Linked DNA regions of Homo sapiens. The protein of the gene in region 1 interacts with the protein of each later gene in a pairwise test. Each region holds a gene or a part of one and is shown on either strand. Other genes may lie near its edges.

The links. Proteins that work in one complex are often made in the same cells at the same time.
Region 2: the proteins of ZXDC (region 1) and SOD1 interact in binary tests that used the Homo sapiens proteins (3 or more experiments, as listed by UniProt).
Region 3: the proteins of ZXDC (region 1) and ZMYND19 interact in binary tests that used the Homo sapiens proteins (3 or more experiments, as listed by UniProt).

What each region holds. Positions count from the first base shown.
Region 1 is NC_000003.12:126,472,555-126,480,335, reverse strand, and holds the start of ZXDC (zinc finger protein ZXDC), read left to right. Parts: upstream 1-4,444; 5' UTR 4,445-4,470; coding exon 4,471-5,377; intron 5,378-7,781. UniProt on the Homo sapiens protein: Cooperates with CIITA to promote transcription of MHC class I and MHC class II genes.
Region 2 is NC_000021.9:31,662,693-31,669,526, forward strand, and holds the end of SOD1 (superoxide dismutase [Cu-Zn]), read left to right. Parts: intron 1-1,097; coding exon 1,098-1,194; intron 1,195-1,613; exon of another isoform or gene 1,614-1,790; intron 1,791-3,756; coding exon 3,757-3,826; intron 3,827-4,565; coding exon 4,566-4,683; intron 4,684-5,778; coding exon 5,779-5,886; 3' UTR 5,887-6,239; downstream 6,240-6,834. UniProt on the Homo sapiens protein: Destroys radicals which are normally produced within the cells and which are toxic to biological systems.
Region 3 is NC_000009.12:137,587,418-137,595,285, reverse strand, and holds the start of ZMYND19 (zinc finger MYND domain-containing protein 19), read left to right. Parts: upstream 1-4,773; 5' UTR 4,774-5,022; coding exon 5,023-5,073; intron 5,074-5,098; exon of another isoform or gene 5,099-5,648; coding exon of another isoform or gene 5,649-5,882; intron 5,883-6,567; coding exon 6,568-6,627; intron 6,628-7,462; coding exon 7,463-7,569; intron 7,570-7,868. UniProt on the Homo sapiens protein: May be involved as a regulatory molecule in GPR24/MCH-R1 signaling.

The DNA of each region.
Region 1 (7,781 bases):
GGTCACAGCTGTAGTCGCCATGGAAGGAACAGCGTGGCTTCTGATGTGCCCAGTGCCATCTTCTTTTTCAGAAGGCAAGGATGTATAGTCCAGTTAGAAATGTTTTCATCAAAATGATTAAAAGAGAAACCAGTTGGCCATGATGAGTGTAGGGTTCAGTTGCCTTAAGAGTTGGAGGTGAGAAAGGCTCAGGCCCTGCAGTACAGCATTAGGGTCCTCCCCCTGGGCAGCGCCTGCTCTCTGCAAACCCAGGGTCCCTGGGAACTGTATGCTTTCCTTGCTGGCAAGCCAAGGTCAGGGAGGGAGGGCCTGGCTGAGTGATGCACTCTCCCATTCCAGTTTTCCCAGAGTAGACAACCACACAGGGGCCTGTGGGCCGGGCATGACCTGCAGTTATGTTTTATTTATATATTTTTTAGAAATAGGATCTTGCTCTGTCACTCAGGCTGGAGTGCAGTGGTGCAATCATGGCTCACTGTAGCCTTGAACTCCTGGGCTGAAGTGATCCTCCTGCCTTAGCCTCCCAAGTAGCTGGGACCACAGGAGCACAGCACTACACTCAGCCTGCAGTTGTGTTTTGTTTGGTCTGTCCTGTTTTTAAAAAAATTTGACTTTGTCACCAATGTTTACAAATTGGGAGAAATCCAGAGCTTATTTTTTGAAAATCAAGATATAAGGTAACACCATGTTCTCACCACCTCTGTGGCAGTGATTTGCTGGGGGCCCCTCTGGGCTGGCCTAGCTCTCTGCACTTGGCCACAGTCCCTTCCAGTCCCTACAGAACCCATGGTGAGGCGGAGCGTGTATGCTGTTTGTCCCTTGGCATGAGAGTCTATGTTTCCTGTGCCCACCTGTCTCCCACATTTGTGTGACTTGTATGACCTCTGCTGGGATTTGAACTTGTGACCTTTGACAAAGAGATGCTCTTTTGCTCCCAGTGAACCTCATCCCCACTCCCATCAAAATTTGGGAATCCTGGACACTTCTCTGTTAGCAATCTCAAGATCCACATGATGCCTTTTAGCCCAAAAGAGGTGCTGGACATCCAGCGATACCTGGGCTGATGGGATTTCTCCCCAGACACAAATAAATCTGAGCGTGCATGCGTGTGTCATCTGCGTCCCTTCCCCTGGCTTCTCCAAAATCCTTTCCACACAGCCTGGAGAGTACAGGTCTGGCTGGCCAAGGCACAATCTCTGTGGTCCTTGTAATTTGGGGCACTCCTTTGAGACTACCAAGTTCAAGTCTCTGCCTGAGCCCCACTGGATGACCACATTGAGCTGACTCAAGCCCACCTGGTGAAGTGGCGCGTCTGACCCTCGCCAGGAGTCCTGTTGCTCCTTTCAGGGTATCTCAGCAGAAGGCTGAAACAACCTAGTATCTGAAACAACCTAGTATCAGATTTGAGCTTTGGTTGGGTGGGGGAGTCTTAGGAAGCGGGGATTTGCTCTGGATTGGCTCTTACCAGAAATCGGGTCAACACCATGACTAGGTTTCTGACTAAATCCTATATACAGAGAGGGAAGCACACAGACAGACAGGCTGTCAGGGGTACAAAAGCGGCGGCTGCTCACGTTAGCTGAGAGAGGGGCTGCTGGGTATCTTGTAAATGGCACAGCAAGTGACCTCGCTTTATCTGGGTGGAGACACATCATGAAGTGGCCTTGCTTTGTCTCATGTCATTGTGTTTCAGTGACCTTGGCCTAGGTTGGTTTTCTGCGTGATGGTTCAAGTCTTACAGAACAGAGTGGCCCAGCTGTAGCACCCGGCCAGTTTCTGGATGGCAGGGGCTGCCCTTTTTCTTTCTCAGTCCCCTTCATTTTACACATGAGGAAACTGAGGCACAGAGAAGTTGTGATAGTTTAAAAATGGCTGCAAATTCTTTCCAGCACCTCCCATTGAGAGGTGGAGTACAAGTTCCCCTTGCCTGGGTCTGCAGTGTCTTATGACTTCTTTGATCACGAGAATGTGGCATAATCAATGCTGCGCAACAAGTTGGGCATGGTGGCATATGCCTGTAGTCCAGTTAATTGGGAGGCTGACCCGGAAGGACTGCTTGAGGCCAGTTGGAGGTCGCACTATGATTGCACCTGTGAATAGCCACCACACTCCAGCCTCAGCAACACAGGGATGGACTTGCTGGGTCATGTGGAGATTATGTTTAGCTTTCTGCAGAACTGCCAAACTGTTTTCCACACCGCAACGTTATACATTCCCACCAGCCATATGTGAGAGTTCCAATTTTTCTATATCCTGTTTTTAAAAAAATTACCACTATTTGAGTAGGTGTGAAGTTGTATCTCACTGTGTTTTGATTTGCATTTCCCTAATGATTCGTGATGTTGAGCCTCTTTTTATTTGCTTATTGGCTGTTTGTATTATCTTCTTTGGAGAAATATGTCTATTCAAACCTTTGCCTTTTAAAAAAGTGGACTGTTTGTCTTCTTGCTAAGAGTTCTTTATATATTCCAGATAGTAGATCCTTATCAGATATTCGATTTGCACACCCTTCTCCCATTCTGAGTTGTCTTTTCACTGTCTTATTGGTGTCCTTTTACCTGAGTAAGTTTTTAATTTTGATGAAGTCCAAGTTATCTATTTTTCTTTCTTGTGCTTTCAATATTATATCTAAGAAACTATTCCCTAATCCAGGGTCACATAGATTTACACCTACTTTTCTTCAAATAGTTTTATGTCTTACGTGTAGGCTTTTGCTCTAATTTGAGTTAATTTTTGCCTCTGATGAGAGATACACGTCCAAATTGGTTCTTTTGCATGTGGAGATCCAGTTGTCCCAGTGCCGCCATTATTGAAATGACTATTCTTTCCTCTACTGAATGGTCTAGGAACAATATGTTTTCGGCATAAACTGATATATATAATAGATGTATCCTATTCTTTTTAATATTATAATTTGTGTTACTTAAAAAAATACTCTTAATAATAAAGCATTCATGTATTTAACAAATATGCACCAAGAGTCTTCCTGGGCACACACAGTGAATAGGACACAGTTCCTGGGCTCCAGGAGCCTACATTCCAGAGAGGGAGAGACAGTGAAGGAGCAGGGAAGGAACTCAACAAAACAACGGGTGATGAGAGCTCTAAGAGCAAACAGATCAGACAGAGGTGGGAATACGGGACTGGGTAAGCATGTGCTTTGGATCAGAAGGGGCGCAGAGTCCTCCCAGAGGAATCAGAGATCAGCTGCGCCAAGTCTCTGAGGCTGGAACCAGCTTGGCTTGCTGGATGAACTGGGAAAAAGAGGTGGGGTGCGGGGGAGGGGTGGGGGGGGCAGCGGGAGAGTGGCGGGAAGTGAGGGCAAACAGGTAGGGGAGGGTAGACTAGCAAGGCCATAGGCGCCTTCGGGAGCAAGGTGGAGGTGAGCATAATTTGATGTGCAATTTTTAGATCATAAAACGGTGCCCCGTGGATGGGAGCGAGTGGAGCGGAGGGAGACCGATGACCAGCTAGTAGTTATTTTTCAGGTACCCAGGAATAAAGTGCGGGTTTGGATCTGAGTGGTGGTGAAGTTGAAGTGGAGGAGTCCAGATTGAATGCGGAGGTGTACGGTGAGGTGGGGGAGGGTGAGGACCGGAAACAGTAAGTAATTAAGCTGTTGCAGAGTGAGGTTGTGCCAAGTTTAGTAGGAAATACAGTTGGAAATACAGGCAGGGGTCCTGCGTATCAGGGAGGCCCCGTGTGCCGAGCAAGGACCTGGGCCAAAGCAAACGAGGTCTGTGCGCCAGCGGCGGCAGGCGAGCTTGCACTTAAGTGAGCTGGGGGTAGGCGTCCGGCCTGTTGGACAGGTTCGAATCCTGGATCTGCCGGCTGCCGAGTGACTCGAGCTCGCCGTCCCTGTTTCCTCACCCCTGGGTGACCGCGCACGCTTAATCAGCTCGGACAGGTACAGCCCCTGGGACGCAGTCAATGCCTACGAGAGGTTGCCTGTTAAGTGTCTGAAATATTAATACGATTCGAAGTCAAGACAAGCCTCGTCTTCCACGCCAGCGGGAACGAGAAGGAATCGCTCAGCGTTGGGAGCCTCACCCCGTCCCCTGTCGGTCCCGTGCCCCGCCGCTCGCCCTCGTAGGTGCCGGCGCTCCGCCCCCCGACCCCGCGCCCCGCCCCCCGACCCCGCGCCCCGCCCCCCGACCCCGCGCCCCGCCCCCCGACCCCGCGCCCCGCCCCCCGACCCCGCGCCCCGCCCCCCGACCCCGCGCCCCGCCCTAGTCGGTCCCGGCGCCCCGCCCCCGCCTCCGCCTCCGGCGCCCCGCAGCCCAGCCTCACGTCACGTCAGCCCAGCAGGCCTCGCGCATCGCCCGGCGGCGTCCGCGCACGCGCGGTTCCGAGCCGGACTCTACGCCGGGGCTTGGCGCGGATCGCGTCCCGGGGCGGCGCACGCACACCTGGGCGGGGCGCGGGCAGCTCTGCGTCCGAAGCTGCTCCGACGCCGTCGCTGGGACCAAGATGGACCTCCCGGCGCTGCTCCCCGCCCCGACTGCGCGCGGAGGGCAACATGGCGGCGGCCCCGGCCCGCTCCGCCGAGCCCCAGCGCCGCTCGGCGCGAGCCCCGCGCGCCGCCGCCTGCTACTGGTGCGGGGCCCTGAAGATGGCGGGCCCGGGGCGCGGCCCGGGGAGGCCTCCGGGCCAAGCCCGCCGCCCGCCGAGGACGACAGCGACGGCGACTCTTTCTTGGTGCTGCTGGAAGTGCCGCACGGCGGCGCTGCCGCCGAGGCTGCCGGATCACAGGAGGCCGAGCCTGGCTCCCGTGTCAACCTGGCGAGCCGCCCCGAGCAGGGCCCCAGCGGCCCGGCCGCCCCCCCCGGCCCTGGCGTAGCCCCGGCGGGCGCCGTCACCATCAGCAGCCAGGACCTGCTGGTGCGTCTCGACCGCGGCGTCCTCGCGCTGTCTGCGCCGCCCGGCCCCGCAACCGCGGGCGCCGCCGCTCCCCGCCGCGCGCCCCAGGCCTCCGGCCCCAGCACGCCCGGCTACCGCTGCCCCGAGCCGCAGTGCGCGCTGGCCTTCGCCAAGAAGCACCAGCTCAAGGTGCACCTGCTCACGCACGGCGGCGGTCAGGGCCGGCGGCCCTTCAAGTGCCCACTGGAGGGCTGTGGTTGGGCCTTCACAACGTCCTACAAGCTCAAGCGGCACCTGCAGTCGCACGACAAGCTGCGGCCCTTCGGCTGTCCAGTGGGCGGCTGTGGCAAGAAGTTCACTACGGTCTATAACCTCAAGGCGCACATGAAGGGCCACGAGCAGGAGAGCCTGTTCAAGTGCGAGGTGTGCGCCGAGCGCTTCCCCACGCACGCCAAGCTCAGCTCCCACCAGCGCAGCCACTTCGAGCCCGAGCGCCCTTACAAGTGTGACTTTCCCGGTAACCGCGCTCTCGGGGGCGGGCGGGCTGCGCGGTGTTGCAGGCAGGTCTGGGGTGCCACGTCCGCCCCACAGAGGGGCCTGCCAGACCTTAGCAAGCCGGGGACGCAGGCTCTTCGGGATTTGTATTCTAGCTCCTTCCATGTCATTCGATTTGAGATCTTGGCCCTGCCCTGCCGCAGGGATTCCGATGGCAGGTAGCGCAGATCACCACAGCTGCGCTTCCCAAAGGTGGCGGCAACAGATATCCTTAACCTGCTTGTGCTTGATGAAAGCGGCACGCATCTTCACAGAGTGGCACGGAGCTATGTGTCAGGTCTTTATTTTCCTCAGTCTCGTCATTTGTTTACGGGGTGCACACTCCGTGCTAGAGGAGCAGAGATGAATGTGGCCAGATTCAGGACCTTAACACGCTGGGAGGATAGCCACAGGTGTGCGCACATCCTGGCTTTTTTTGCCTTTTGCACTTTGATTTCCGTTGAACCTCACAGTTTTGTGAAGTTTTAAAAATTAGCCGTCTGTGAAGGTTAAAAACTGTCCTCTTTTACAGATGAAGAGACAGAGGCCGAGCCTTGTGGATAAAGTCCACTGCTGGTGGCTGGGCGCGGTGGCTCACGCCTGTAATCCCAGCACTTTGGGAGGCCGAGGCGGGCGGATTACGAGGTCAGGAGATCGAGACCATCCTGGCTAACACGGTGAAACCCCGTCTCTATTAAAACTACAAAAAATTAGCCGGGCGTGGTAGCGGGCGCCTGTAGTCCCAGCTACTCGGGAGGCTGAGGCAGGAGAATGGTGTGAACCCCAGAGACGGAGCTTGCAGTGAGCCGAGATCGCGCCACTGCATTCCAGCCGGGGCGACAGAGCGAGACACCGTCTCAAAAAAAAAAAAAAAAAAAAGTCCACTGCCTGTTCTTTCTCCTGTGTGTTGACCTGCAGTTGTTGGGAATGTAGGACTCCAACACAGTGAGCTCTTCACCAGGATGGGCAGCTTTCCCTGCTTTCACAGGGATAGGGTTCCTCCAGAAGGGCAAGAAAGGATTCCTCCCTGGAAAGGCAGAAGAATGGAGTCGGCTGGGTGGCAGAGCCCAGGTGGGGATTGTGGTCTGTGGTGAGGGCCCAGGAGGAAGGACCAGTCATTCAAACAGAAACTGGAATGTGTGCCTAGCATGCCCCTAACCTGTATATGCACACGGCTCTCCTTATAATGTCCTTAAACAAGAATTTTTAAAGGATGAGATGAGAATTATGAACGGGTTTTATTATTTTTTCCCTCGCATATGCCTGTGGACTGTCTTGCGCATTCCTCTTCAGAGAGAATGTGGCTTGAGGCCACTAGCTCAAAGTCTTTTTCAGTCATACACTCTTGGGAATCTGATGGTGGCTGTAGACCCTTTCCCTGCTAAAAGAGTATCATTCTGTGTATGACACTGGGAAGGTCAGGGATCCCGCCTGCTTCCAGGCATGAGGTCTCTTGAGGGTTTTGTGTTGGCTGATCCATGAGGCTTCTTGTGTTGAGATGAGATTAGATGGTTAGATGAGATTAGATGTTTAGAAGCAGGAGCAGGACCAGGGAAGCATCATCAAAGGGCCCAGACCTGAGTTTTCTGAAGGCCTGAGCCAGGGAGTGGGAATGATGAGGGTCTCTAGCAGGTGAGATTGCAGAGGGAGAACCAAAGGGTGTAATTATCTATGGGGGTGTGGGGGGTTCTTGCCAAGGCAGAGAGAGTCTGTGTTCAGATTTACATGACCAAGTGTGTGAACACACCGAAGCCCAAAATACCCTGGAGGTATTTTGGGACCAGATTGAGGCCAAAGATCAGCATTTCTGAGTTAGATGTTGCTGGGGAAAGTAGGGTTCCTTGGGCTGATACTTTTGGGCAGTGCTATGCCATGTACATCTGTGTGGCAGTTCATAGGCATGATAGTATCTCGTTAAAGGCTCCAAGAGGAGCTGCAGCAAAGACTCCTGTTAAACATCCTGCAGCCTCATGTTTTCCACCCTGTTGGAGCCCTGAATGTTTCTGTCGGAGGAGAAGTATTGCTGTGGAATTGTTGAGGCTTAGCTGCTTTGGCCAGGGGTTAGGATTGAGGTGAAGATTACAAAGCAGGGAACCTAAGGAAATTGCGAAAGGAAAAAGAATCCAAACAGCAAGGGACAGGGCTGGCAGTTGGAGGGTGTCAGGGAGGAAATTTGGATATGTAGAGGATGCAGCATCACCCCCAAGGGGTGAAAAATCCTGGCTAGTAGGATGATTTGTAGCCTTTCAAAGATCAACCCTACCAGACAAAATCTTGTTCCTTAGTATTTGATTTCTCTCATGGGGTTCTTGGGTCTCAGTGTGTGTGCAGGATCAGTGCTCCGGAGCCGGCCAGTAGATGGCTGTGAACGGAGGACTTTCTCTTTA
Region 2 (6,834 bases), on another chromosome or scaffold:
ATATAATATTTTCTGACTGCTAATTAAAAATACCTGTGATAGCCGGGCGTGGTGGCTTACGCCTGTAATCCCAGCACTTTGGGAGGCCGAGACGGGTGGATCACGAGGTCAGCAGATGGAGACCATCCTGGCTAACACGGTGAAACCCCGTCTCTACTAAAAATGCAAAAAAATTAGCCGGGTGTGGTGGTGGGCGCCTGTAGTCCCAGCTACTCAGGAGGCTGAGGCAGGAGAATGGCATGAACCTGGGAGGCGGAGCTTGCAGTGAGCCGAGATCATGTCACTGCACTCCAGCCTGGGCGACAGAGCGAGACTCGTCTCAAAAAAAAAAAGAAAAAAACTTATGATGGACACTTAAAAACACTCACTGAGTGGGGAGTGGAGAGCAGGGGTCCCAGGGTAGCCTGTTGGACATTTCCAGGGCGACTTTTTCTTTTTTTTTTTTTAAAGTCAAGTGAGTATGCCATATGGAAAAGGGTGTGCGTGGAGAAAAAGCAAGGGGCTCCAGAGTGTAGGATGAGACATACACCTTTTGGGTTAAAAAGGCTGAGGCAGGAGAATGGCGTGAACCCGGGAGGCGGAGCTTGCAGTGAGCTGAGATCATGCCACTGCACTCCAGCCTGGGCGACAGAGCGAGACTCTTGTCTCAAAATAAAAAACGTTTACATGTACATGTATATTCAACATGTACAAATATAACCTATTCAAAAGTATTTACTACATAAATAGGTACTTACATTACCTATTTACTGTAATAGTCAAAGCCTATGAAGTATCTAACACTGATGTGTAGGTACTCACTTTGCTTGCCACTCTATTAGGTGCTTTTTATGTTATTTAATCATGAAGCCTGGCCACAGGGTGCTTGTGCATTGAGTGTGGGAACAAGATTACCATCTCCCTTTTGAGGACACAGGCCTAGAGCAGTTAAGCAGCTTGCTGGAGGTTCACTGGCTAGAAAGTGGTCAGCCTGGGATTTGGACACAGATTTTTCCACTCCCAAGTCTGGCTGCTTTTTACTTCACTGTGAGGGGTAAAGGTAAATCAGCTGTTTTCTTTGTTCAGAAACTCTCTCCAACTTTGCACTTTTCTTAAAGGAAAGTAATGGACCAGTGAAGGTGTGGGGAAGCATTAAAGGACTGACTGAAGGCCTGCATGGATTCCATGTTCATGAGTTTGGAGATAATACAGCAGGTGGGTGTTGTGCTGTGCTGGTGACCCATACTTGTTCACCCTAGTTAGATAAACAGTAGAGTAGCCCCTAAACGTTAAAACCCCTCAACTTGTTTTTGTTTTTGAGAAAGGGTCTTGCTCTGTCGCTCAGGCTGGAGTGCAGTGGCGCTGTGCGATCATGGCTGACCTTAGCCTTGACCTCCCAGGCTCCATTGATCCTCATGCCTTGGCCCGTAGCTGGGACTACAGGTACACACCACCACGCCTGGCTAATTTTTGTATTTTTTTCTAGAGGTGGGGTTTCATCATGTTGCCCAGGCTGGTCTTGAACTGCTGGGCTCAAGTGGTCTATCCTCCTCGACCTCCCAAAGTGCTGGGATTACATGTGTGAGCCACTGTGCCTGGGAAAACCCTCAACTTTTCTTTTAAAAAAGAGGTCAACTTTATTGTATATAAGCACTGTGCTAAAATTGCAGGAACTGGGACCATATCCTGATTTTTGTAATAATGCCAGCAGAGTACACACAAGAAAAGTAACTGCACTAGATTGTGAAGACTGGGGTGGACCTGCTTCTGAAGGTCCAGTGCCCTTTGTCTTAAGATTTGGTGTAGTGTGTCTTTAGAAACCAAAAAAAGAGAAGAAGATCAACCTTAAGATTAGCCACAAAACTGGGCTTTGATACCTAGGTGTGGAAAAGAAAGGGAAAGAGTTGATGTTTTGTCTTACAGCATCATTGTAGAAGAGGGTGTTTTTTTGTTTGTTTGTTTTTTGAGACGGAGTCTTACTCTGTGGCCCAGGCTGGAGTGCAGTGGCGCGATCTCGGCTCACTGCAAGCTCCGCCTCCCGGGTTCATGCCATTCTCCTGCCTCAGCCCCCTGAGTAGCTGGGACTACAGGTGCCCGCCACCCCGCCTGGCTAATTTTTTGTATTTTTAGTAGAGACGGGGTTTCACTGTGTTAGCCAAGATGGTCTCTCTCCTGACCTCGTGATCCGCCTGTCTCAGCCTCCCAAAGTGCTGGGATTACAGGCATGAGCCACCGCACCCAGCCAGAAGAGGGTGTTTTTTAAAGAAGGCAAATAGGAAATAAAAACTTGGGCTCTTAACTTTTGTAATGATCCCAGGTGTTTGAGCTGGGGGTTGAGGGTGGGTGCCTCGAGCAAAGGGGCTGCATTTATTTGCATAATGCCATGTAAGAGTAGCTCTACACCCCAAACACAGGCTTCTTAGTGGGACCAAAGTATGATACAAACTGAAGATGGAATGCAGAGGATTATTGGTACTTTGGAATATGCTTAAAAAAAATTTTTTTAAAGTATTTTTAAAAAATCAGGCAACCCCTGAACCAGAGTAGGTTCAGAGAAACTGCCAAATTTTATTTTCTTAATTTGGGATTGGAAGCAAGTTAACAGAAGTTTATGAGTTAAGTTGCATTTAGTGATCTTTTGCCATATTTGAGTAATAATCTGATTTTTTTGTTTATAGATTTCTTCTTAAATTAACTTTATTCATCTTGCTAATTTAGTTTCAAATAGTGATTTGTAATGATCAGATTTGATCCATTTCTGTAATTGCTGAAATTCCCCCGAGTTGCTTTTTGGCTTTACCGCCTCTGGTCTGGGAGGTGATTGCTCTGCTGCTTCCTGTAACTTGCCTGCCTTTCTCCCTGTGTGGGACTCCTGCGGGTGAGAGCGTGGCTGAAGACAGCCGTGTTATGAAAGGGCCTCCTGTGCTGTCGAGGTTGTGCTCTGTGAATGTCATCCCCTGGTGCACAGCAGCACCTTCTACACAGGATACAGTTGGAATGCCGCCCCCTCGAGTTGTGTAAGGCAGCAGCCTTGGCCCTTGCACATAAGATGCTGTTGAATATTCTGCCTGCACCAAGTAAAGGGCACAGATAGAACTGCTTGGCATATGTTGCTGGGGAGATGAGTTTTTTGTAAAGTATACTACGTTCTTAAGAATTTGGATCATAACCATGGGATTTTAATAATAGAAAAACTGTTGAAGATCAGTCTGGTCCCTTATTTTTACAGTGAAGAAGCCAAAGCCCAGAGAAGGGTGTTAACTTTACAAGTGTCAGACAGTAGTTAGAACTTGGTGGGGTTTTTTTTTTTTTTTTTTTGAGATGGAGTCTTGCTCTGTTGCCCAGGCTGGAGTGCAGTGGTGCGATCTCAGCTCACTGCAACCTCTGCCTCCCAGGTTCAAGCGATTCTCCTGCCTCAGCCTACTAAGTAGCTGGGACTATAGGTGCGCACCACCACGCCTAGCTAATTTTTGTATTTTTTCAGTAGAGACAGGGTTTTGCTATGCTGGCCAGGCTGGTCTCAAACTCCTGACCTCAGATGATCCAGCCACCTCAGCTTCCCAAAGTGCTGGGGTTCCAGGTGTTAGCCACCATGCCTGGCCATAGACTTGTTTCTGTTCCCTTCTCACTGTGGCTGTACCAAGGTGTTGCTTATCCCAGAAGTCGTGATGCAGGTCAGCACTTTCTCCATGGGAAGTTTTAGCAGTGTTTCTTTTTAGAATGTATTTGGGAACTTTAATTCATAATTTAGCTTTTTTTTCTTCTTCTTATAAATAGGCTGTACCAGTGCAGGTCCTCACTTTAATCCTCTATCCAGAAAACACGGTGGGCCAAAGGATGAAGAGAGGTAACAAGATGCTTAACTCTTGTAATAATGGCGATAGCTTTCTGGAGTTCATATGGTATACTACTTGTAAATATGTGCTAAGATAATTCCGTGTTTCCCCCACCTTTGCTTTTGAACTTGCTGACTCATCTAAACCCCTGCTCCCAAATGCTGGAATGCTTTTACTTCCTGGGCTTAAAGGAATTGACAAATGGGGACACTTAAAACGATTTGGTTTTGTAGCATTTATTGAATATAGAACTAATACAAGTGCCAAAGGGGAACTAATACAGGAAATGTCATGAACAGTACTGTCAACCACTAGCAAAATCAATCATCATTGTGAAACATAGGAAGCTTCTGTAGATAAAAAAAAAAATTGATACTGAAAACTAGTCGAGACTCCATTTATATGTGTATGTTTTCTGAAAGCCTTTCAGAAAAATATTAAATTTAAGGACAAGATTTTTATATCAGAGGCCTTGGGACATAGCTTTGTTAGCTATGCCAGTAATTAACAGGCATAACTCAGTAACTGAGAGTTTACCCTTTGGTACTTCTGAAATCAGGTGCAGCCCCATCTTTCTTCCCAGAGCATTAGTGTGTAGACGTGAAGCCTTGTTTGAAGAGCTGTATTTAGAATGCCTAGCTACTTGTTTGCAAATTTGTGTCTACTCAGTCAAGTTTTAATTTAGCTCATGAACTACCTTGATGTTTAGTGGCATCAGCCCTAATCCATCTGATGCTTTTTCATTATTAGGCATGTTGGAGACTTGGGCAATGTGACTGCTGACAAAGATGGTGTGGCCGATGTGTCTATTGAAGATTCTGTGATCTCACTCTCAGGAGACCATTGCATCATTGGCCGCACACTGGTGGTAAGTTTTCATAAAAGGATATGCATAAAACTTCTTCTAACATACAGTCATGTATCTTTTCACTTTGATTGTTAGTCGCGGTTTCTAAAGATCCAGATAAACTGTACTTGCAGTTCAAATTAGGAAAAGCAATTTTATTGGACAATTACGGTGAAAATGAATTATTTTATCTAGGTCAGTTAAGAACACTGTTCTGCTAAGATGCAGTAAAAAGCAGGTTACATTTGACCATATTAGATCTGAGTTTGGAAAACAGAAGTAGTCTTTAGTTTTAAAATGGCCAGATTTTCTTGCCAGGATTGGGTTTCTCACTTGTTAAACAGAACATTTTGTTAAGTTTAAAACCTGGGATGGACTTAAGTATTCATGTTCATTCATGTTCATTCAGGACTGCAGGTTATCATGACTTGTTTAACTTGTGGGAAGCTGTTGTCCCAAGTTATCCTGGGGAACTGCATCTGGTTCTTGCAAAACACCAAGTAGACAGGCTCTCTTTTACCTCCCCTTGAGGGCATTAACATTCAGTAGTCACTTCCATTCAGTTAACCCTTTATTTTTATGGTTTTTCTTGAGCCATAGTTGTAAAGCAGAAAAATCATTTATAAAGGTTTGTTGAACAAAATTCAAAATACTGTTGCTTAAAGTATTAAGATTTTTTAGGATTATACCTTACTTATAGGCCCGTCATTCATTTGGCATGAAATTTTGAGTTTTATTCACTTTCACTTTCCTTTTTTTCCAAAGCAATTAAAAAAACTGCCAAAGTAAGAGTGACTGCGGAACTAAGGTTACTGTAACTTACCATGGAGGATTAAGGGTAGCGTGTGGTGGTCTACAACATAGTTATTTGGGTTTTAGTATTTCATTTAGACAGCAACACTTACCTAATGTTTAAAGGTAATGTCTTTGCAACACCAAGAAAAAGCTTTGAGTAGTAGTTTCTACTTTTAAACTACTAAATATTAGTATATCTCTCTACTAGGATTAATGTTATTTTTCTAATATTATGAGGTTCTTAAACATCTTTTGGGTATTGTTGGGAGGAGGTAGTGATTACTTGACAGCCCAAAGTTATCTTCTTAAAATTTTTTACAGGTCCATGAAAAAGCAGATGACTTGGGCAAAGGTGGAAATGAAGAAAGTACAAAGACAGGAAACGCTGGAAGTCGTTTGGCTTGTGGTGTAATTGGGATCGCCCAATAAACATTCCCTTGGATGTAGTCTGAGGCCCCTTAACTCATCTGTTATCCTGCTAGCTGTAGAAATGTATCCTGATAAACATTAAACACTGTAATCTTAAAAGTGTAATTGTGTGACTTTTTCAGAGTTGCTTTAAAGTACCTGTAGTGAGAAACTGATTTATGATCACTTGGAAGATTTGTATAGTTTTATAAAACTCAGTTAAAATGTCTGTTTCAATGACCTGTATTTTGCCAGACTTAAATCACAGATGGGTATTAAACTTGTCAGAATTTCTTTGTCATTCAAGCCTGTGAATAAAAACCCTGTATGGCACTTATTATGAGGCTATTAAAAGAATCCAAATTCAAACTAAATTAGCTCTGATACTTATTTATATAAACAGCTTCAGTGGAACAGATTTAGTAATACTAACAGTGATAGCATTTTATTTTGAAAGTGTTTTGAGACCATCAAAATGCATACTTTAAAACAGCAGGTCTTTTAGCTAAAACTAACACAACTCTGCTTAGACAAATAGGCTGTCCTTTGAAAGCTTTAGGGAAATGTTCCTGCTTAGTCATTTTAGCATTTTGATTCATAAAGTACCTCCTCATTTTAAAAAGACATTATGATGTAAGAGAGCCATTTGATAACTTTTTAGTGAGCTTTGAAAGGCAAGTTACAGCCTCAGCTAGCTAGTAAGATTATCTACCTGCCAGAATGGCACAAATTCTACATTCAAGGGTAGACGCTGGCACAACCTACTTACAGATTAGCCCTTTAAAGCAATCTGTAGCATTAGAAGATGGAACCAAGGAAATGTTTGACTGTGGGTTCTGGCTGTTGAGAAATAATTTACACACCGAATTAGTGAAATGAGTCACTTTCTCTTAATGTATTTATGTACCTGAGAGAATGCTTTTCAATGTTAACCTAACTCAGGTTTGACTAAATTATTCAATTGGAAAT
Region 3 (7,868 bases), on another chromosome or scaffold:
ATCTCTGTGAACTCTATACTCACATATTCTACTTATACATTCAACTGCCTTGTAACCTTAACATGTAGCATAAGTAACACATTTTTATTTGGCTAAGCCGCTGAGAACTTGGGGTTGTTACTGCAGCATACCCAGGCCCATCCTGACATACACACCCCTCCACCACAGGTCCAAACATCACCACTTACCAGGAGAGGTCGAGTGTCCCTTATCCAAAATGCTCGGGACTAGAAGTGTTTCAGATTTTGGATTTTGGACTCTTTGTATTATACTTGCCTGATGGCGCTTTCCATATCCAAAATCCAAAATGCTCCAATGAGCACTTCCTTTGAGTGTCATGTCAGTGCTTACAAGGTTCAGATTTTGCAGCATCTCAGATTTCAGATCTGAATGCTCATCCTGTACTTGCCGCCCCTCCCGCCGCCCCATGTGCTGCTGCTTCTCAGTGGCCAGTTCATTGGCCACCTCTCCATTTTCTTTCGAGACGAAGTCTTGCTCTGTCGCCCAGGCTGTAGTGCAGTGGCGTGATCTAGGCTCACTGCAAGCTCCACCTCCCAGGTTCAGGCCATCCATTTTCTTTCATGACAGAGTCTTGCCCTGTTGCCCAGGTTGGAGTGCAGTGGAGTGATCTCAGCTCACTGCAACCTCTGCCTCCTGGGTTCAAGCGATTCTCCTGCCTCAGCCTCCCGAGTAGCTGGGATTACAGGCATGTGCCACCACACCTGGCTAATTTTTGTATTTTTAGTAGAGACAGGGTTTTGCCCTGTTGGCCAGGTTGGTGTTGAACTCCTGGCCTCAAGTGATCCACCCACCCCGGCCTCCCAAAGTGAGCCACCACACCCAGCCCCACCTCTCTATTTTCAAACATGCCAGACATGTCGCAGCTTAGGGCCTTTGCACAGGCCGTTCCTTCTGCCAAGAATGTTCTGCCCTGTATAGCCACACGGCTCACTCTGTCTCCTTCCACTGCAAGTTCCAATGCTGTTTTCTCAGAGGACGGCTCTGCCCACCCCTGCAGCAGGGCCTCTGACTGCCTTATGGTGATGGACTTGTTCTCCCCATTGCACTTCTCACTGGCCAACGCGGTGTATGGTTCCTCATTACGTGTATGTTCTGCCCCCCTCACTCGAGTATGAGCAGGGGCTTTCATTGATTTTGTTCATTGGTGTGGAGCAGTTTCAGCAGTGGGAGGGGTGAAAGCCCAGCTGGAGTGGGCTGTCAGGAGACTTGGGCGGTAGGCAGAATGCCCCCCAAAGGTGTCACGCCCTTATGCCTGCGCCTGTAATATTATGTTACATAACAAAAGGGACTTTGCAGATGTAAGTAGGTTACCAATTAGTGACCTTAAAATAGGGAGATTATCCTGTTTATCTGGGTGGACCCAATCTAATCACAGGAACACTTAAAGGCATAAAGCTTTCTCCAGCTGAAGGTGGGAGAAATGGGACAGAAAGGATCAAAGACGTGAAGTAGTAGAAAGGCTGGCTTTGGCCGGGCACAATGGCTCACACCTGTAATCCCAGCATTTTGGGAGGCTGAGGCGGGCGGATCACTTGAAGCCGGGAGTTCAAGACTAGCCTGGCTGGCATGGTGAAACCATGTCTACTAAAAATTTAAAAATTAGCTGGGCATGGTGGAGGGCACCTGTAGTCCCAGCTACTCGGGAAGCTGAGGCAGGAGAATCACTTGAACCCGGGAGGCGGAGGTGGCAGCGACCCGAGATTGTACCACTGCACTCCGGCCTGGATGACGAAGCCAGACTCTGTCTAAAAAGAAAAGAAAGTCTTGCTGGTTTTGAAGATGTGAGCGACCTCTAGAAGCTGAGAACAACCCCGGGCCGGCAGCCAGCAAGCGGAGACCTCATACAACCATGTGATGAATGTCAACAACCTGAAGGAGCCTGTAGCCCGGGTCTCCCCTAGGGCCCCTGCTAAGAGCTGAGGCAGCTGACACCCTGATTTCAGCCCTGAGACCTGCAGCAGAGAAGCCAGTCAAACCCACCTGCACTTCTAATGCACAGAACCGTGAGATAATGGGTGCTCTTTTGTGGTTGGTTGTTATAAAGTGATAGAAAACGAATTAACTAGGAGATAAGAGGAGACGCCAAGTACAGACAACCTGTTAAAAACTCTTGCTGGGATGGGAAGTAGGAAAATGAGGCAGTGGCTGGAAAGGGATGGGGGAGTCAAGGGCTTCTTTTTAAGGTGCCTGCCCCTGGGAGAGGGAAGCTGCAGTGAGAGGAAGCACCGCCCCAGCGTTACATAATTCCACCCTCGCAGGACACAGAGGCAGGGGTGCCACATTCATACTTGGGTAGAATGTGTAGATAAAGCAGCCGGCTTGTGGTGGACCAGGTATGAGTTCCCAAGCCAGCTGGGCACTGCCCGCAGCACTGCGCTGTGTCAACACCTGCAGGTCTTTCTCGGCTTTGGAGCCAAGAAGTCACCTTGCCAGGAACAGCCTCCAACCAATGACTGCAAGGTGAGAGGTGAATGCTGGGTCCCCTTGCAGCAGGGTGAAGGGTGAATGCCTTGGCTCCCCTGGCCCTCGGGGAGGGACTCTGAGGATGGTTCCTACACAAGCGCCTGCTACAGTAACTGGACTGGTAGCACCCCCTTCCCTGCCTCACACCCCTACTCTCCTGCTGGTGTCTCCTGGGGTCTTCTCTCAAGCTAACAATTTGGACTTTTTTTTTTTTTTGACGGAGTTTCACTCTGTTGCCCAGACTGGAGTGTGGTGGCACAATCTTGGCTCACTGCAACCTCTGCCTCCTGGGTTCACGCGATGTTCCTGCCTCAGCCTCCCAAGTAGCTGGGAATACAAGTGTGTGCCACCACATCCGCTAATTTTTGTATTTTTAGTAGAAACGGGATTTCACCCTGTTGGCCAAGCTGGTCTTGAACTCCTGACCTCAGGTGATCCACTTGCCTCGGCCTCCCAAAGTGCTGGGATTACAGGTATGAGCCACCAGGCCCGGACAAAATTTGGACTCGAATCCATTTCAAGTCAACCTCTGGGGGAACCTGGACTATGACACCAGTGCTTTTCAACTACCCTAGGGAGCACCCACCAAGCTCCACTTCTTTTCACAAAGCAGTTGCTCATAATCTCATCACACCCTTGCAACTCCATGAGGTTGAGATTGGTAGGGCAGGTACTTTTTTTTTTTTTTTTGAGACGGAGTCTCGCTCTGTCGCCCAACCTGGAGTGCAGTGGCACGATCTCGGCTCACTGCAAGCTCTGCCTCCCGGGTTCAAGCCATTCTCTTGCCTCAGCCTCCCAAGTAGCTGGGACTACAGGCACCCGCCACCACGCCCGGCTTTTTTTTTTGTATTTTTAGTAGAGGTGGGGTTTCACCGTGTTAGCCAGGATGGTCTCCAGCTCCTGACCTCGTGATCTGCCCGCCTCGGCCTCCCAAAGTGCTAGGATTACAGGCATGAGCCACCGCGCGCGGTCGGACAGGCATGTTTTGAGCAAGGCCCAGCCTGAACCCCAATGTGTGTCTCAGGCAGGCCAGGACTCATCAGCCCCTTCAGTCCTCTAGGGTGTCTGGGGTACTGGCAAGTACCAGGGGACCCAGAGATGGAACGTCTGGGCTCACTCATGTACACCCTTTGCAGGCTGGGGCACGGTGGCTCATGCCTGTAATCCCAGCACTTTGGGAGGCCGAGGTGGGCCGATCACCTCAGGTTGGGAGTTCGAGACCATCCTGGCCAATATGGAAAAACCTCACTTCTACTAAAAATACAAAAATTAGCCGGACATGGTGGCGCGTGCCTGTAGTCCCAGCTACTCGGGAGGCTGAGGCAGGAGAGTCGCTTGAACCCGAGAGGCAGAGGCTGCAGTGAGCCGAGATCGTGCCACTGCACTCTAGCCTGGGTGACAGAGCAAAACTCTGACTCAAAAAAAAAAAAAAAAAAAGCAAGAAAAGAAAACGGAACCCAGCAAGCCAGAAAGGAGCCTGTGCAGCTCCTCAGGTGCAGGAGTCGCCCTTGAGGCAGGGTGAGGCCTCCTCACGGGCGACTGGACACCGGCGGAGCAGGACGCAGGACCTAGCCCCGTTCGCTCCAGGCTGCAGGGGAGCCACGCTGCCCACCACGGCGTACCCAGTCCCTCCCTGAGCGGGTCTCGGCTTTCCCGCGGAGCCTAATGGGCCTCACTGGAGTTCCGTTTCCAGACGCCTTGGACCAGGCTGCTCTGGAGGTCAGCCGCCCCCGAGGCTGAAGAGCCGGCGGCTCGGAGAAGGCTGCGCGGGAGGCCGCGCCCTCCGGGTCGCGTGGGCCGGGCGTCCGCTGTCTCTCCAGAAACACCCGCGTCCCGCGGCAACGGCCTCTTCCTAGCCCGCCTCGCCCGCTCCCCGCCCGCCCAGAGGGCCCCGCACGAGCTCCGTCCACCTCCTCCTTCCGCGCTCGGGGCCAGGACGGCGGCGGGAAACAGCTTACGGAGGCTACCGCAAGGGAGGCGAAAAGCAGCCAGCTCGCAGAGCTCCACGGACCCGGCGCGAGTCCCCAGCCACACTCCGCACTGCCCCTCTAGGCGCGGCGCCGCTGCCCGCACAAAGCTTCCCGCGAAACTGACGTCGGCGCGCGCAGGCACCGCCCCCGGCCTCGCCCCTCCCCCGCGCTCGCCCCGCTCCCCAGAGCGCCGGCGCACTCGCCCTCCTCCTATTGGTTGTTGCGGGGCGGCGCGCGCCGGTCGGCGCCGTGCGCGCCTAGCCATTGGCCGAGCGGCGGCGGGCCGGGGGGTGTGTCCGGGGCTGCGCCCCGCCCCTCCGCTCCGCTCGCTGTGGTGCGCGCGGTGGCGGTGGCGGCGGCGGCGGCGGCGCGTGGCAGGTCCGGCGGGCGCGAGGCGGCGGCGGAGGCCCGAGCCCGGCCCAGCCTCGTCCCGCCCGGAGCCCGCCTGGCTGCTACCCCGACCCCGGCTCCGGTCCCGTCCTGTCCCGGCGCGCCGCGGCCTCGCCCCGGCCCCCGCTCGGCGCCTCCCGAGGGAGCGGCGCTGCCGGCCGAGAGCGCAGGCCCGGCCATGACCGACTTCAAATTGGGTATCGTGCGGCTCGGCCGGGTGGCCGGGAAGGTGAGCGGCGCGGAGCCCGCGACCCGGCCCGTCTCGCCCGTCCAGGCCTCCGCGCGGGGCCGGGGGCGGTTGTGCGGGCGGCGGCCGGGGCGGGGGCGCGGAGCCCGGGATGGGCCCCAGCGGGGCGGGGGACGCTGCGCGGGCCCGGCTGCTGGCCCCGCGCGGGTGCAGCTTCCTCTCGCAGGCCGGCGGGCACGCACCCCTCGGCTCTGGGGTGCACCTGGCCACCCTCGGCCCTGCCCTGCCGGAGGTGGAGGCCACGGCCCTGTCCCGAGCCGGGTGCGGAGATGCGTGGCTCGAGCCCGAGCCGCGTTCTCCCGGAGCCCTCCCAGTGGTGTCGGCGATCCGGGGCCTAGCGCGGCGTCCGGGCTGCCAGTGCGGCCACACGGTTTAAACACAGCGCCCTTTCCGAGGCAGCGCCACTTCCACACCTCTCGCCGAGGCGGGTCTGGTGTGGGCTCTTCTGTGCCTCCCAGTTCTCAGCAGGGCTTCAGGCTCGTTTTAACGCTGCCAGGGGTTGGCCACGTTAGGCTGAGCCTCAGACTCGGAGCAGAGAGGAAGAAGCCTGGGCCCTGATGCTGCAGACTCAGGGCCTTCCTCGACTTCTCTTCTTACTTGGCCCCCACGCTCCACGTTTGAGGCTGGGGATTCCATGGCACCTGTGGGCATTGAGGCTTGGCGGTTTCTCGGAGCCACCTGTGCAGCTGCACCAGCCAGGGTCCTTACCCGGATGGGAGCCCTGTTCCCGTCACCAGCGGCTGCGGCTTTTGGTGGGAGAGAGGAGCCGAGGCAGTGTCAGGCGGCGTCAGGTAAAACAGGTTCAGATCCCAGAAGAAAAACTGCCAAGAGGGAGACTGGCCCGTTCTGGGACCTGTTCCTGTTTCCTGCCCCTGCTGCAAGAGCATAGGCAGGGCCTGCTGGGGAGGAGGCTTTTTTCCACCAGGGAAGGGTGGGCTCTCCAGTCAGGTCGGAGACCAGAGACCCCTTCTAACTCCACCCATGATGGCATTGTCATCCCTTACAGCTTTTCTTTGGAACATTTCAGATGGACAAAAAGCTAAAAAGGGTAATCAGTGAGTAGCTCAGCTTAATAAACACACCCTAATCAAAACCTTCTGGCTCTTCTGCCTCAGCCCCGGCCCCTCCCTCAGCTCAGTGAAACAGTCTTTGCCTAGGTTTATTGGTGCGTTGAATGTTCAGTGCCACTGTTGGGGTTAGCCCTGCGAGGATGAAGCCTGATACCAGCTCCTCTGGCGCAGACTAAAGTGGGCAGCTGGCTTTTAACCTGTCTGCCTGTGTTTTGTCGTAGACTGCACCACCCCAAACGGTGGAATGAGGCCCCCATGTGCTGAGCTGTCTTGGTCTGAAGAGGCCTGTAGTTACTTTCCACTTCACAGGAAAATGCAACAGGCTCCTGCCTGTTCTGGTTATAAGGTTACTGCACCTCACGCAGATCCCAAATGTAATGATTTGAAACATGTGGTTAACTTCCAGACCAAATACACGCTGATCGATGAGCAGGACATCCCGCTGGTGGAGAGCTACTCCTTTGAGGTAAGTAAGGATGGCTGTTCCCTCCCCTGATGCTCGTGGTCAGTGCCCAGGAGGGTCACGAGGAACGAGCTCTCTCCCCTGTGCTGCAAGAGCAGGCGGCCCCACAAGTGGACAACTGGTGCTGGCCTGTGAGCCCTGAGCCGTCAGCCCCACTTCGAGCCGTGGCCCTGCAGAACCTGGCTGTTGCTGCCACTGGAGCCCACTGTGGCCCACATGGCCTGGCGACAGTGGTCTTCCTCACTTTCACCCCAGCTGCCAGCTCCTCTTGAAAGCAAATGGAATGTTCTCATGTTTGTGATTGTGTCACGTGGACCATGTCTGTTAGCTCGAAGACCCTGCTCTTTAGAGCTAGCCACCTCTGCTGGGCCTGCCTTAGCAGTCCCTCCTGGCTGCCCAGCTGCCTCCCGTTCTCTGCTCTCATGGGGTCTTCCTGCCTCTTCCCAGCTTCCATTCCTGCCGCTGAGCTTGGCCTCCCTCACCATCCTTTATCTCTGTGCCCCACACATTCACAGTAGTGACCTCTCCAGGGGGTTCTCTATCTCACTGCACCGTGGGCTTTTTTTAAGGGTAGGAAAATGTATTTGTCTATGTCCCATTGTATTTTGCAGAGTTGTTTGTGAGTGTTTCTTGCTCGAATAGACAGAGTGGTGGTGGGCCACGCTGGCCCCTGGGAGCCATGTGCCTGTGGGAAGCTCTGCACTCCCCAGGGTCTCAGGGACAGGGCTGGCATTTGTCCCTCTGGCTTGCTTGTTTCACTTGGTTTTTCTAAGAGGGAATTGAAGTGTTGCTGAGAATTGGAGGTTTTTTAACAGCTCTTTCCCTTGTTCCTTCTCAGGCCCGAATGGAAGTGGATGCAGATGGAAATGGTGCTAAGATATTTGCCTATGCCTTTGACAAGAACCGAGGAAGGGGCTCTGGGAGACTCCTTCATGAGCTGCTGTGGTGGGTGTTTCCAAGCTGTCTCTGCCCCCCGCCACTGGGCTCCTGGGTGAGCTCCGATGGCACAGGGCGCCTGGAGCCCCCTGCCCCGCTGAAGCCCTGCCTTGCCTTCCCTGAATCTCGCAGTTATTTTTGTGTCCTTCACCACTAACCCAAAGGAACGAATGATTTGTATGTTGCACTTCAAACACCAAGTGGACTTTCTGCTGGGAGCTTGCCCAGGACCGGCAGCCTCTGGAGGGACGGTGGTTGCTCCCCTTGCTGGGTTTTGCCGAGCCCCCCCGGTGTGCATGGTAGGGACC